Linked DNA regions of Homo sapiens. The protein of the gene in region 1 interacts with the protein of each later gene in a pairwise test. Each region holds a gene or a part of one and is shown on either strand. Other genes may lie near its edges.

Region 1 (7,274 bases):
AGTATTTATCCCATTGGGATCCTTGGCCATGTGAACATAACGGACATCAGGTACTGGAGCCTGGGTACACGTGGCAGGGTACTCAGAACACTACTGGGGGAGGTGGGCAAGTTAGTGGCCTGCCCACGTATTACAGTTAGATTAAAAAGTAATAATCCCAGTAAAATGTTCTATTTATTATGTCTTTTAATGCTCTTCTTTCAAATATCTCCCTTTTTGTGTGATAATATTTATTGTCATCATTTTTGTGTTATGACTTTTTGTTTGTCATGACCGGCTAACTGCATGAAAAATAGCTTACTATAAGCTTATAAAAATACAAATATATAGGTACACAATATGATATAATATATACACATGTATATAGCAATTGTATATGTATAGAGAGAGCAATTGCTACATGCCAGGTGCTTTGTATACAGTATCTCATTTATTCATAGCATCTTTGTGAAGCAGGTGATATTGTCTCCTTTTTATAGTTGAGAAAATGGAAGCTCCCAGAACTTCATTGGTTTGTCCCAGGCCACACAGCTTGCACGTGATATTGCTGGGGCCAGAACCCAGGACTGCCTGGCTCTTCAGCTCATGTCCTCCCTTAGCCCTGTGCCACACTGCGTGTTTCACAAGTCCAAATTGCTTGATAATGAAATGTAACAACAGAGAAGGCTCACTGGGGAAAAGTTAAGAAGGTGGTTTGGTTTGTTACAGAACGTGAATGAGAATTACAGGAATGCCTTTGGAAGGAAGTATTCTTGCTGCTTGCACTTCTATTTCTGATGAGTGTCTGCATGATAATAGAAAGTAAAACATACACTGAAAGACAAGAGCTGGGTTCAAAAGTCTGGGGCTCAGGTGGACAAAACATTCTTGTTGCTCGACACCCAGTAAGTCTAGTGTGCATGATTGTGCTTTGTCTTCAGAATCTAAGCTTACCTTCCACCATCTTGACTTTACCAATTGTACTATTCTGCCTGAGACACTTACCCTTGCTATATCATATCTCTGTAAGGCAGAGACAAGATCCATGAGAGCTTTAGGTTTGTGCCAGTGATAAGGAATGCTCTAGAATGGCTTGCCCAGAGTGACACTACTTAGTCAGAGATGCCCCTTGCCCTCGGGGAGCTCGCTTTAACTGCATAGGTAGGATTTTGGCAGTGAGGCCCTCAGAAGAGAAGGGAGCCATAATTGGTAAAGATATGAGGTCTGAAGTTTTAGAAAACTCTTTTGCAAGCATTATGAATTCCAGATAGAGGGCTATTTGCTGTTATAGCCTGTCCAGCTGTGCGTTTGCCTAGAAAGTGCCAAGTAATAGTGTTTTTCTCTGTTACTGAAACTAGACATGTAGCTTAGTGCTACCTCCTGACCATCATTTATCAAAGTACATTACCTCGTACATTGGCAATTCACTTTGGCTGTTTGGGCAGGTGTGGAGTGGTCTGGTGGGGGCTGAAGTTCTGAATCATGTCAAGACTTGGTGGCAAATTCGAGCAGAACTTTAAATTAGAGCTGATATTATATCCAAAAGATTTTCTCTCTCCTATATATCTTAGCTCTACAATCCTAGAATGTGAAAGCTGGAAGGGAGCATAAAAAATACTGATTTAACACCCTGTATTTTTTGGTTGAGAGAAAAAAAAATACTCTACTGGGGAAGTGACTGCTTTTTCATGTTTACAAATGAAACTGCATCGAGCACCCTTTCTAAGTGAGGCACTATTCTGGGCAGTGGGAACCCAGGGATGAATTGGGATTTGGATCTTGCCATGAAGGTACAATTCGTATGGTATATAAAATGAGCATGGCCATCACCAGTGCTGGTTGGGTTTTACTCGCTCATGTGGAATCACTGGATGAATGTAGTATACTTACCTTAATACACAAAATATGATTGATGTTAAAATCTTTAAAATACCTGAAGTAACTTTGGCTCTTAGTCTGAGAATAAGAGAAAAAAAAGACTTTCAAATCTGAGAATGACATACGTTAGCCTCAGTAGAGAAAGCAACTTCTAATCAGAGGAATGGGGAGCGCAGAACCTGTGCTGGAATGCAGGAGTCCTGACCGACCCCATGAGTTATCATTACAGTCAAAATGTGTATAATGGAATTGAGCTCTGTCATCTGAACTGTTTCTGAAGGCATATGTTTGAATCTTCCCCAAGTCCAGTACAAAACAAACACACCTCTAGTGTAAATAAACTACACAAGTAAATCAAATCAGCAATAAAAAAAATTCCTCGTAAATGGGATTTAAGGACTACCTTAAGTTGGGAAGGGAAAAAAGGGAGGCTTGAAAAGGCATATATCCACCAAATTCCTGCATGACATATTTTAGTGTGGCTAAATGTAGACAAAGTCTATCAAGCAGGATATAGTAAGCACAGTTAATGCTGTATATTCTGGGGCAGTTTGAAGACAGTCCTTTTCTCCAGGTATGCTATTATTGGGTCAGAACAAATAGGTGGGAGCTTCTGGGCTGGCTCTGGCAGGTGGTCTTTGTCCTTTCTTCATTGTAGACCAGAATGTGGAGACATCACACTTTAACTTTGCAGGCAACTATATCCACGAAGATGAGAGGTGAAGCCTCTTTGGAGGCTGCATAGACAGTTTGCAAATTAATTTTGTGTTCAGCTGGTCCTTCATAAAGCATGTAAACTCTAATTGCCTTAAATAAACATCTTTTTTTTTTTTTTGGTTTTTTTTTGGTGACACGAAATGATCCGGTGCATTATCAGATCATTACTATTCAGGGGCTGGTATGAATTGAGTGACTTTTCCTTGTGCTTATTTTCCAGAAAGCACTAATATTCTGTTGGCTTTCTTTCCCCAAGCAGGCCTGGCAAATTCCGGTGATGCCAGGTCACCAGCAACTTCTTGGCAAACTCAGGTGCTTCTCTTCTGTGACAAGAAGAGCCCAGGTTATCTCAGAGCTTTGGGCATGTGTCCAGTGATCACTTGGAGCTGACTCAGTGTGGACCATTAGGCAAAGATATGTCTGTTTGACAGAATGACAATGGGAGCCATAATAGGAATCAATTTGGTTCCCAAAGTTGGATCCTCATTTAGCATTAGCAGAAGGCTGGGCCTTGTGGCTGTAGCAGCAACAGCTGCTGAGCTTTGATTATTTAGGATAGGGGCGAGATCATGAATAAATACTGGCCTTGCCCCAGTGTTTGTGTTTGTCAAATACCAAAAAATAAAATGGGAATCCTAAATTGGCTTGCATGCTGCCACCCAGCTTTCTTACCACCTTCATTTCTAGCCTGAATCCAAGAGGAGAGGAGCTTGGGTAGAGGTTATAACCCAGGAGGAACCTGGCAGATATCAGTGAGTACAGGCAGGACTGAGGGCTATACAGAGGTGGGGTTCACTGATACTTAGGCTGTTGACTCAAAGCAATAGTAAGCAATAGTGATCTCAGTGAGATCAGTGAGCAGTAGTGATCTCACTGTTCTTGAGAGGTGCTAAAGGCCACCAGAAGATTTTCTTGTCAGTATCCTGGCTTTGGAGATGACAGATGTGTGCAGTGGTGGGAAAGTTGCGCTCAGAGAGACCTCAGGCAGGTGTGGGACTGAGCAGGGTGTGGGTGGGGATCAGAACATTGCCCTGTGGCTTCATATTTAAAAATTATGCCTAAGACTTTGTGCTACACAAAAATAAAAACAAGAAAACTAAGGGGGGCACTTAGTAAGCTAAGTCATAGCAAGGCTCATTATCTAATCTTTATATACTTTTCTATTTGTTCGTCTCCTGTCAGTACTGCTGTGTGGCTCTGTTGCTTGGTGCCCTTGCAAATCTATCTGTTTTGGGAAAAGGAACATGAGCTTAATGGATTTAGGAGAGTGGAGAGGAGTGAGTCCATGAGTCCAGGAATCAAATGAGAGCAGCTGTGGATTCAATAGGGCTTCAGCTCTGAAAGCCCAGAGGGGAGGAATAAGCAAGTGGGTGTTAATATTAATCATTGATATTGCTATCACTGCCTCTTATTTATTGAGTACTTATCTTTGACATTGTGTTGAATACCTTCTGCAAATGATCTCAGTACATGTGACAAGTCTTTGAGGTAGTAGCATTAGCCCCATTTTACAGATAAGGGAATGGAGTTTGAGAAATCTTATGGTCATGCAGTTGGCAACTGCTGGAGAGAGGGTTTAAATCTAGGTCAGTGTGGCTTTGTGCACACTGCTTTTTCTGCAAGTTGTTGGTAGGAGAGAGGTCACCTTAATTTACCAGAATTTTGTTTTCTGTAAAGAGAATGACTTTACCCAAGAGTTGAACATTCTCTTTCCAGAAATTTAATGAGCAGTTCTGCTCCACGATGGTGCTTGGAAGTTTAGCTAAAACTGCTGGTTATAAACTGAGAGCAACCTGTGTGTGGATTGAAAGGGAAGGGTGTGCAGTCATTGGTAAGCATTTTCCTATGGTGTGACTCTGACGGGCAAGGGTGCCATCGCTAAGATGGAAAGATACTCCTGCAAATTGAAATGTTATAAATAGGGAATGGATCCTTTGCTTTCCTGCTACTTGGGTCATTTTGAAAAATATTTGTTTAGTGAATAACGGTGTGACATGGGTTCTGCTTAGCAATGTAGTTTCAACTCACTTATCCTGAGAACTTGAGGACCTTTTAGGGTTTTCTTTGCTGTCAGCCTAGTTATTTGTATAGGGTAAGTGCACGGGCTTGTACCATCTGTTGTTAGTATTTCCTTTTTTCACTTTTCATTTCAGGTCTCTTAGAAACTGGTTTAACTCCGTGATTTGAGGGGTGTCAGAGGTCATGTGTTTGTGTGTGGTTTATCATACTGACTGGTAGCACTCGCTTAAGTAAGCTTTTAAACATCGCTTCGTAGGTTGTAGAGACTGAGTAAACTAGGAAAAGGCAAAGGGTGAGAGGAAATTATTTAATCATTTGTCCTGGAAAACAGGTTGGAATTCTGGTCTCCCAAATAACCTTTGGGACAAGACCATTGTTTGATTTCATCCTATACACGGCCAGGTCAGCTTGCCCAGGATTAGGAGAGGTGGGGGTGTTGGGAAGGAAGAAAGAGATTCCAAGGCAAATGGTAACAGGTCCCCAGAATAATTTAGCTGGATATTTTTGTTAATCCGTTTTGCGATGCTATAAAGGAATACCCAAGACTGGGTCATTTATAAAGAAAAGAGGTTTATTTCACTCATGGTTCTGCAGGCTGTACAAGAAGCATGGATTTAGCATCTGTTTGGCTTCTAGTAAGGCCTCAGGAAGCTTTTAGTCATGGCAGAACGGAAGGGCGGCTGGTGTGTCACATGGTGAGAGAGGGAGCAAGAGAGAGGGAAGGAAGTGCTAGGCTCTTTAAGCAACCAGCTCTGGTAGGAATTAACAGAGAACTCAGTTATCACCAATGGGACAATGCCAAGCCGTTCATGACAGATCCACCTCATGACCCAAACACCTCCCGTAAGACTCCACCTCCAACATTGTGGATCACATGTCAGCATGAGATTTGGAGAGGACATACATCCTAACTATATCATGATTCAATCTTTGCTATTCTTTTATGTGTAGAAGTCCATGACTCCTCTCTCCTCTTGGGTTTAAACCTTGCAGACCTGGTCAAGGAAAAATAACAAAATAGACAAGGTTTGTGTGTGTTTCCTCATTTGAAAAGCTCAGGGCTAATATTGTTTTTCAGCTTCTCAAAGACAATATGCTCTTCATCATTGTGTTTCTGGCTCAATGTCCTGACACATAACAGTTAAGGAATAAATGATTAATGAGTTTCAGAAGGATCTTGATTTAAACTAACTGTTCATTCATTCTAGTCAAGTTAGAGGGTAGTTGGAGCTAGCATTACATCTCAGTACTTTGAACAACAACTGAAGGATAGATGAGTTATTAAGAAAGAACAATTTAAACTTATGTAAGTTGTCAGACTAGAAGAACCTAGTGGGTGTAGAATTCTCTTTATGTGTCATTTCAATTCAATTCCCTTTGTTTATAGTATTTATGTATAGTTAAAACTAATGTGTATGTACCTGCTTGTGTTCTGCTTTTCTTAGTGCAGCTATTTTCTGTTATCTTACAGAGATATATTTATATTTTATCCGTTTAATAAAATTTATGGGGCATCTATTAAATGTCAGGCATTGCTAGACTTTGGGTATATGATATGAAAAACTATTCATGGGCTTTCCTTCTTGGACGTCGTAAAAGGGGTGATGCTTAATGAGAACCAGCCTTTTAAAGAACAGAAGGAAGAGTATGCCAGGAGGAAGGAACAGTATGTGGGATGGCCCAGAGGGAGGAAACAGCCTACATGTTCAGAGAATAGAAAGATTACGGTGGTTGCTGCTCAGTGAATGGGGACAACGGATCGAGCTTGAAAAGGCAGGCAGGGGCCATATCATACAGGATCCTTTAAGGGATCAGGACATCACTCAGAGTGCAGTGGGAAGCAGGGTAATACTATGACTTGAATGCAATTAAAAAAAATAAAAACTCACTGGCAGCTCTGTGGAGAATGGATTAGAGAAGGGGAGCATAGAAGCTGGAGGCCAGTTAGCACATTTTACAGTAATTCAGGGCAGAGATGATGGTGCTAGAGCAGTGACAATGAAGATGGGGATTACTAGATAGAAATTTTGGAGAGATTTGCTGATGGCGAGATAGGAAGGAGCAGGTGATATTGAAAGCAGTGATCAAGGTTGATTCCTAGGTTCCCACATTGAGCAGTCTATGGTGGTCTGATTACTTTGAAAGGGAAGGCTTGGGGAGCAGTGGGTGAAACTGAGAGGCCTTAAGTTTGGATGCGTGTTGAGTAATTTTGAGGTGCCTGTGATTCACGTCAGTTCAAGCCTTTATGGCTGCCACTTTTTAATAGCTCTATCCCCTCCAGTCGGCACTGTGTTGAGCCATTCTATTGTTGTTGGATGCTTGGCTTGCTGTCTCTTTGGTCTTCCACTGCAAGCAGCACTAATGAAGTTGTCTCTGTATAAACCAATTGCTCTTTTTCCTTTTTGGTTGTTTCCCCAAGGTGTGTTCCTCAAAGTGGAATTGCTGGGTCAAAGGAAATAAATGAACAGTTTTATGGCTTTTGCTGCACATTGCCAGATTGTAGTCCAGAAGAACTGAATTTGCCAGACTGTAGTCCAGAAGAACTGAATTAATTTAGAATGCCACCAGCCACCTATAAATGTGCTTTCTAGCCCACAAGCCTGCCAATATTGGAGTTTATAATTTTAATTTATTTATGCTGCTTTAATATAGATATGTCAGGGTCCTTGGGTGCAAATTTG
Region 2 (7,274 bases), on another chromosome or scaffold:
TCTCAAAAAAAGAAAAAAGTAAAAGGAAGTTATCTGGGGCCTGAGGTCGGGGGGGTGCTGTACCTCAGAAAACTGGAAAATCTCCTTTGGAAATGCAGCTGGAGGTGGCTGGGGCCTCTGACTCAGTGGGAGGTCGGAGGGTATAGGCTGAGCCCTCCAAGCAGTCTTGCTTGTAGAGCGGGAGAGGTTTTGTCCCAGAATGTGAAGAAATCTGGAAATGTGGTCGAGGACAGGGAGAAGGCTAAGGTGGACTCCAAGAGGAAATCATGTATCTGTTAAATTTGTACATTAATTCAACAGAGATTGACTGAGCACCTACTGTGTGCCATGTGCTGTGCCTGGCCTTGGGGATAAAGGAGTGAATGAGGCAGAATAGAATCATAGCATTTAGATCCTAGTGAGGGAAGAAGAGAGGAAATGAAGGAGGGAGAAAGAGGAGTAAACATGTCAAGTAGTGATATGAGCTATGATAAAAATAAATAAATAAATAAAGGGCTGGGCATGGTGGCTCACACCTGTAATTTCAGTGCTTTGGGAAGCCAAAGTGGGAGGATCACTTGAGCCCAGGAGTTCGAGACCAGCCTGGGCAACATAGCAAAACGTTGTCACTACAAAAAAAAAAAAAATTGCTGGGCATGGTGATGTATACTGTAGTCCTAGCTACCAGGGAGGCTGAAGCAGGAGGATCACTTGAACCCAGGAGTTCAAGGCTGTAGTGAGCTATGATCATACTATTGCATTCCAACAGACCCTATTTTTTTTTTTTTTTTTGAGACGGACTCCAGGCTGGAGTGCAATGGTGCAATCTTGGCCCACTGCAACCTCTGCCTTCCGAGTTCAAGCGATTCTCCTGCCTCAGCCTCCTGAGTAGCTGGGATTACAGGCACTCACCACCACGCCCAGTTAATTTTTGTATTTTTAGTAGAGATGGAGTTTCACCATGTTGGTCAGGCTGGTCTCGAACTGCTGACCTCATGATCTGCCAGCCTTGGCCTCCCAAAGTGCTGGGATTCCAGGCGTGAGCCACCATGCCCAGCCAAGACCCTATCTCTAAAAAAAAAAAAAAAAAAAAAAAAAAAAAGAGTAGGAGATGGAGAAGGGCGGGTGCCGATTTAGACAGTGTGGTTTGGGAAGGCCTCTCTGAGGAGATGACATTTGAGCAAAGATTTATAAAGCTTTGTGAAGATGTGTGGGAAGTCTATCCTGAGTGAGAAGAACAGCAAGTGCCAAGACCCTGAGACAAGAATTTGCTTGGCACGTGGGAGGGACAGAGGGAGCCCAGTGTGGGAAATGAGGGAAGGGGAATAAGTGAGGGGAGAGGGCTGAGAACTGAGGGGCTGGATGTGCAGAGCCCTGAGGGCCGTGGGGAAGACTTTGGTCTGTACTCTGGATGGGTTGGGAGCTGGAGGAGGGTTCTAAGCCAAGAAGGGCTATGATGTGACTGCAGTTCTAAAAGGAGCATGCCGGCTGATTCCTGGAGACACCTTCTATGTGGCACTTCCCTGGGCTGTGTATAATCTGATCATTCATGTAGTCGTTCATTCACCACGCACTGAGTTCCTGCCACGTGCCAGGGCCCTGTGCTGGGTGCTGACGTCACAGAGAGCAGTACTCCTTAGAGTCGAGTGGGAAGAGACAGAAGTGCCTCTAGGCACCACCCTGGCTGGGCACAGGTTGATTCCTGCTCATGGATACATTTTATTTTATTTTCATTTTTATTTATTTATTTACTTTTTTTGAGATGGAGTCTCACTCTCTGTCACCCAGGCTGGAGTGCAGCGGCGCCATCTCAGCTCACTGCAGCCTTTGCCTCCTGAGTTCAAGTGATTCTCCTGCCTCAGCCTCCCGAGCAGCTGGGATTACCGGCGCCCACCACCACGCCTGGCTAATTTTTGTATTTTTGGTAGAGTCAGGGTTTCACCACGTTGGACCAGGCTGGTCTCGAACTCCTGACCTGAGGTGATCCGCCCGCCCCGGCCTCCAAAAGTGCTGGGATTACAGGCGTGAGCCACCGCGCACAGCCTCTATTTTTATTTTTTATATTTCCAGAGTCAGGGTCTTGCTCTGTTGCCCAGGCTGGCGTGTAGTGGCACAATCATGGCTCACTGCAGCCTTGAACTCCTGGGCTCAAGCAATCCTCCTGTCTCAATCTCCTTGAGTAGCACCAATGCGCACCACCACACCTGGCTAATTTTAAAACTTTTTGTAAAGACAGGGGTCTTGCTATGTTGCCCAGGCTGGTCTTGAACTTATGGGCTCAAGCAATCCTCCTGCCTCAGCCTCCCAACGCATTGGGATTACAGATGTGAACCACTGTGCCCAGTCATGGATACATTTGATGTGGACTGCATGGTATTTGAAACAATTGAGAGAGTTTTATTAAAAACCAGGACTTCTGGCTTTATTTATTTTTGCTCTGGAGATTCAGCCAAACTTCACTCATACTCTCACAGGGCAACAGTGGGTGAGGTCAGTAGCAGTCCCCCTGGACATGCAGACTCCAAGGTACTGCACTCTCTGTCAGGCTTTTGTTTCAGGGGGTGGAGTTTGCTGCTATATGGGAATTGCCTGATCTTCCAACTTTTCAAGACACACTGGGCATCGAGATTTTTATGTGAACCCACCTGAGTTTGAAACCTCATGCTGGCCACACAGAAAATGCCTGTGGGTTGACTGTGGCCCATGTGCCACCAGCTTGAGACCCTGCATTAGAGGCTCTAAAAGGCAAAGACCTACAGCTCCCCTACTGAGGCTGGAAGGAGGGGGTCAGTTGCGTGGGGTGACCTTGGACCTCTTGCCACCCCAGCTTTCACCTTCTTCGATCCCAATGACCCGGCGTGCCAGGAGATCCTGTTTGACCCTCAGACCACCATCCCCGAGCTGTTTGCCATTGTGCGCCAGTGGGTGCCCCAAGTCCAGCACAAGATAGACGTCATCGGCAATGAGGTGAGAACACTGGGGAAACCAGGGGGAGAGGGGATGCGGTTCCCCACATGTGTGGGTGACCCTCCCTGCTCCCCTGGTACTCACAGATTCTGCGCCGAGGCTGCCATGTGAACGATCGTGACGGGCTGACCGACATGACACTGCTCCACTATGCGTGCAAAGCTGGGGCCCACGGAGTCGGTGAGGGCCCCCTACCCCCAAGTCATAAGCCCCAAAGCCTAGGCCCCCAGACCCAACACGCTGAAAACCACCCAGAACTCAGGCCCCATCTGGAACCCGAAGCTTCGGATCCCAAAGTATAGTCCCTGAAGCCCAGGGTCCTCCCCGTGCACTGGGCCCATGCTCTGGAATGGGGGTTCCAAGCTGACCCGGCCTATCGCGCAGGGGACCCCGCGGCAGCCGTGCGCCTCTCGCAGCAGCTGCTGGCGCTGGGCGCAGATGTGACGCTGCGCAGCCGCTGGACCAACATGAACGCGCTTCACTACGCGGCCTATTTTGATGTGCCCGACCTCGTGCGTGTGCTGCTGAAGGGTGCGAGGCCGCGAGGTGAGGAGGAGAGCCCTGGCTGGGAGGGGGCAAGGACCTGGGTGAGGGACGCGGAGACCCAGGTGAGGCCAGGCTGCGAGGGGAAGGAGGACGGTGATCTGAGGAGATAGCGGGAGGTTGGAGGCGTGGGAGAGGGGGCTCAGGGACTACCACTCTAGGGAGGGTCGGGGCTGCCAAGGGAGAGGGGGGCTCCGAGGTGGGGGCGGGGCTCTGCGTCGGAGGCTCTGGGACCTGCAAGTTAAGAGATGAGCCCCGAGGTGGGAGGAGGGCTGGGGTCCCACAGGCGCTCACCCGGAACCCCTCCTCTTGCCCACTTCCAGTGGTGAACTCCACGTGCAGTGACTTCAACCACGGCTCAGCCCTGCACATCGCTGCTTCCAGCCTGTGCCTGGGCGCCGCCAAATGTTTGCTGGAGCACGGCGCCAACCCTGCGCTGAGGGTACTGCCACCCTTGCCCAGAACCCGTTACCCTCCTGCTCCCTTCCTCCCCCACTTCCCTCCAGCAGGTCTCTGCGTTTCCCGTGACTCCCCAAATACTACAAATGCCGTCTGTACATTCAGCAAATGCAATAACAGCTGAAATATGCCTAGTGTTCATTACATGTCAGGTGAAGTCTATTATAAGCCTTGTTTTACAATGGGGAAACTGAGGCAGAGATTAAGGGATCTGCCCAGGGTCATCCAGCCTATCCCATGGCAGTGCATAACAGCATTTCAAGGTCATGAGGAAAGTTGGGCTAGGCCTTCTGTGAATGAGAGGGTTGGTCCTCTCCTAAGCCCTCAATATGATCTTTGACCTCTGACCTATGCATTACCAGGCTCCATCCACAATGCTAATTACCCTGCAGCCGTCCAGGCACATGTATGTTGGGGTAACATGGCCTGTGCCCCTGAGACCCTGCCTCTCCCCATTTTCCACTGGCCCAGAGTTTGACTCCTGACTCTATACCACAGGAGCCCACTCTCACTCTCTCTAATTTTTTTTTTTTTTTTTTGAGACAGAGACTGGCTCTGTCATCCAGGCTGGAGTGCAGTGGTGCAATCTCGGCTCACTGCAACCTCTGCCTACCAGGTTCAAACGATTCTCCTGCCTCAGCCTCCCGAGTAGGTAGAATTATAGGCATGCGCCACCACACCCGGCTAATTTTTGTATTTTTAGTAGAGATGGAGTTTCACCATGTTGGCCAGGCTGGTCTCGAGCTCCTGACCTCAGGTGATCTGCCCACCTCGGCCTCACAAATTGCTAGGATTATAAGCATAAGCCACTGCACCCAGCCCACAGGAGCCCATTCTCAATGTTCATCTCCCACATGTCCTCATTACAGGCTTGGGGTCTCCAGAGATTGCCTCCCTGAGGGCGTGACCTACAGCACTGAAGTGTGGCCCTCATCCCTACTGCCTACACCCCCAGGCCCACCCTCAATTACTTGACACACCCCCAGCCCTGGGTCTCAGGGGTGGGTTTCCCTGGGGATGTGGTCTGCACCTTTCTGCCCTGCCCCTTCTTTTTTTTTTTTTTTGAGACGGAGTCTCGCTCTGTCACCCAGGCTGGAGTGCAGTAGCATGATCTTGGCTCACTGCAACCTCTGCTTCCCGGATTCAAGCGATTCTCCTGCCTCAGCCTCCCGAGTAGCTGGGATTACAGGCACACGCCACCACACCCGGCTAATTTTTGTATTTTTAGTACAGACGAGGTTTCACCATGTTGGCCAGGCTGGTCTTGAACTCCTGACCTCAAGCATCTGCCTGCCTCGGCCTCACAACGTACTGGGATTACAGGCGTGAGCCACCTTACCCCGCCTTGCCCTGACCCTTCTTATTCCCAGGTTGGCCCAGGATATGACCTAGTCTTACCCCTGCATCACCCAGACTGGTGGTCTCTAGGGGCAGGGCCTCCATGGGGGTGTGACCTGTGCCACTGAGTCCCTGCCTTCTTTTCCCATTGGCCCCCAGAATCGAAAAGGACAGGTGCCGGCGGAGGTGGTCCCAGATCCTATGGACATGTCCCTGGACAAGGCAGAGGCGGCACTGGTGGCCAAGGAGCTGCGGACGCTTCTGGAAGAGGCAGTGCCACTATCTTGCGCCCTCCCCAAGGTCACGCTACCCAACTATGACAACGTCCCAGGCAATCTCATGCTTAGCGCACTGGGCTTGCGCCTGGGAGACCGCGTGCTGCTGGATGGCCAGAAGGTCAGGGGCTGGGATGTGTGTTTGCATGGTGGGTGGGGGTGGGACTCAGCCCCTTAATCCCTTGGAGCTGCGTCCTCGGGCAGAGTGCAGTCCCTGCCCTTTGTCTACTTGCCGCCCTAACTATCCACCCAGTACTTGATTTTATCTCAGTTGTTCCGTGGGTGTCTCCTTTGAGCCTCACCCTGTGCTGAGCTCTCCATCCAGGGTGGGAAACAACCCGTCATCTGACAGTGACGGCCGAGAGTGGTCATGGCTGCCATGGGGAGGGGTGAGCAGAGTGATCTGCGCAGCTCTGTGCACCTGTGGCTCCCCCCGGGTCTTGTGGTCCTCGATCAGGCCCCTCTGCTCTCAGAGACAAGTCTGGCTAGGCAAGTCCAGGCCAGAGTGATTGGGGTGTGATGGGGAATGTACCCAAATTGCAGATGTGGAGGAGCAAGCCAGGGAAAGAAAGGGAGAAAGGAGTCTCAGCTTGGGGGAGCGGGTATCACAGCTGAGAGGGCAGAGAGAATCTTCATTTATCCAGGGACTCCAATTTCACTCATTTCCCGGTGTCCCTTGGGCTCCATACGGGACCCAGTCTGTCCTTAGGGAGGGAGGGCTGTGTCTGCCCCCGCCCTGCTGTCATGGGGCTCCACTTGTAATGAAGGGGAGACAGTCAAGAAAGTAAACCTATGGTTGAGATGATTTCTGGGCTGGGCACGGTAGTTCACACCTCTAATCCCGGCATTTTGGGAGGCCGAGGTGGGAGGATCACTTGAGGTCAGGAGTTGTTAGAGACCAGCCTGGGCAACATAGTGAGATCCTGCCTCTATTGAAAAAAAAAAAAAAAGGTAATTTCTGGTAGCAACAAGGGCTGTCAACACCATTACATGTTTGGATTTAGTAAATTGTCCCTGGCTGAATGCTGGAGTGGTTTTAGCTGGGGTGTTCTGAGAAGGCTTCTCTGAGGAGGTGATGTCCAAACTGAGATAGGAAAGAACTTCCTTTGCAAAGATAAGGAAGCAGAGGATGCAGTAGGTATGGAGACCCAGAGGCAGGAAGGGGCAGTGTTGACGAGGGGAGTTATGGGAAGGGCGGTGAGGTGGAGAGGTCAGCAAGGCTGGGTCACAGCAGACCTGTAGGCTACTGGAAGGAGTTTGAATTTTGTTTTTGTGTTTTTGAGACAGGGTCTTGCTGTCACCCAGGCCAGAGTGCAGTGGCACGATCTTGGCTCACAGCAACCTCCACCTCCCAGATTCAAGCTATTCTCATGTCTTAGCCTCCCACGTAGCTGGGATTACAAGTGTGTGCCAACAAGCCTGGGTTTATTTTTATTATTATGATTATTATTATTATTATTTTGAGATGGAGTCTTGCTCTGTCGCCTAGGCTGGAGTGCGGTGGCGCGATCTCAGCTCACTGCAAGCTCTGCCTCCTGGGTTCATGCCATTCTCCTGCCTCAGCCTCCCGAGTAGCTGGGACTACAGGTGCCCACCACCATGCCTGGCTAATTATTTGTATTTTTAGTAGAGAGAGGGTGTCACTGTGTTAGCCAGGATGGTCTTGATCTCCTGACCTCGTGATCCGCCCGCCTCAGCCTCCCAAAGTGCTGG

What was found.
Region 2: the proteins of TNFRSF21 (region 1) and CLIP3 interact in a two-hybrid assay, tested with the Homo sapiens proteins (one study listed by BioGRID).

The regions. Positions count from the first base shown.
Region 1 is NC_000006.12:47,299,713-47,306,986, reverse strand, and holds part of TNFRSF21 (tumor necrosis factor receptor superfamily member 21 precursor), read left to right. Parts: intron 1-7,274.
Region 2 is NC_000019.10:36,022,804-36,030,077, reverse strand, and holds part of CLIP3 (CAP-Gly domain-containing linker protein 3), read left to right. Parts: intron 1-2,806; coding exon 2,807-2,946; intron 2,947-3,032; coding exon 3,033-3,126; intron 3,127-3,330; coding exon 3,331-3,492; intron 3,493-3,812; coding exon 3,813-3,931; intron 3,932-5,445; coding exon 5,446-5,682; intron 5,683-7,274. UniProt on the Homo sapiens protein: Functions as a cytoplasmic linker protein. Involved in TGN-endosome dynamics. May modulate the cellular compartmentalization of AKT kinase family and promote its cell membrane localization, thereby playing a role in glucose transport in adipocytes.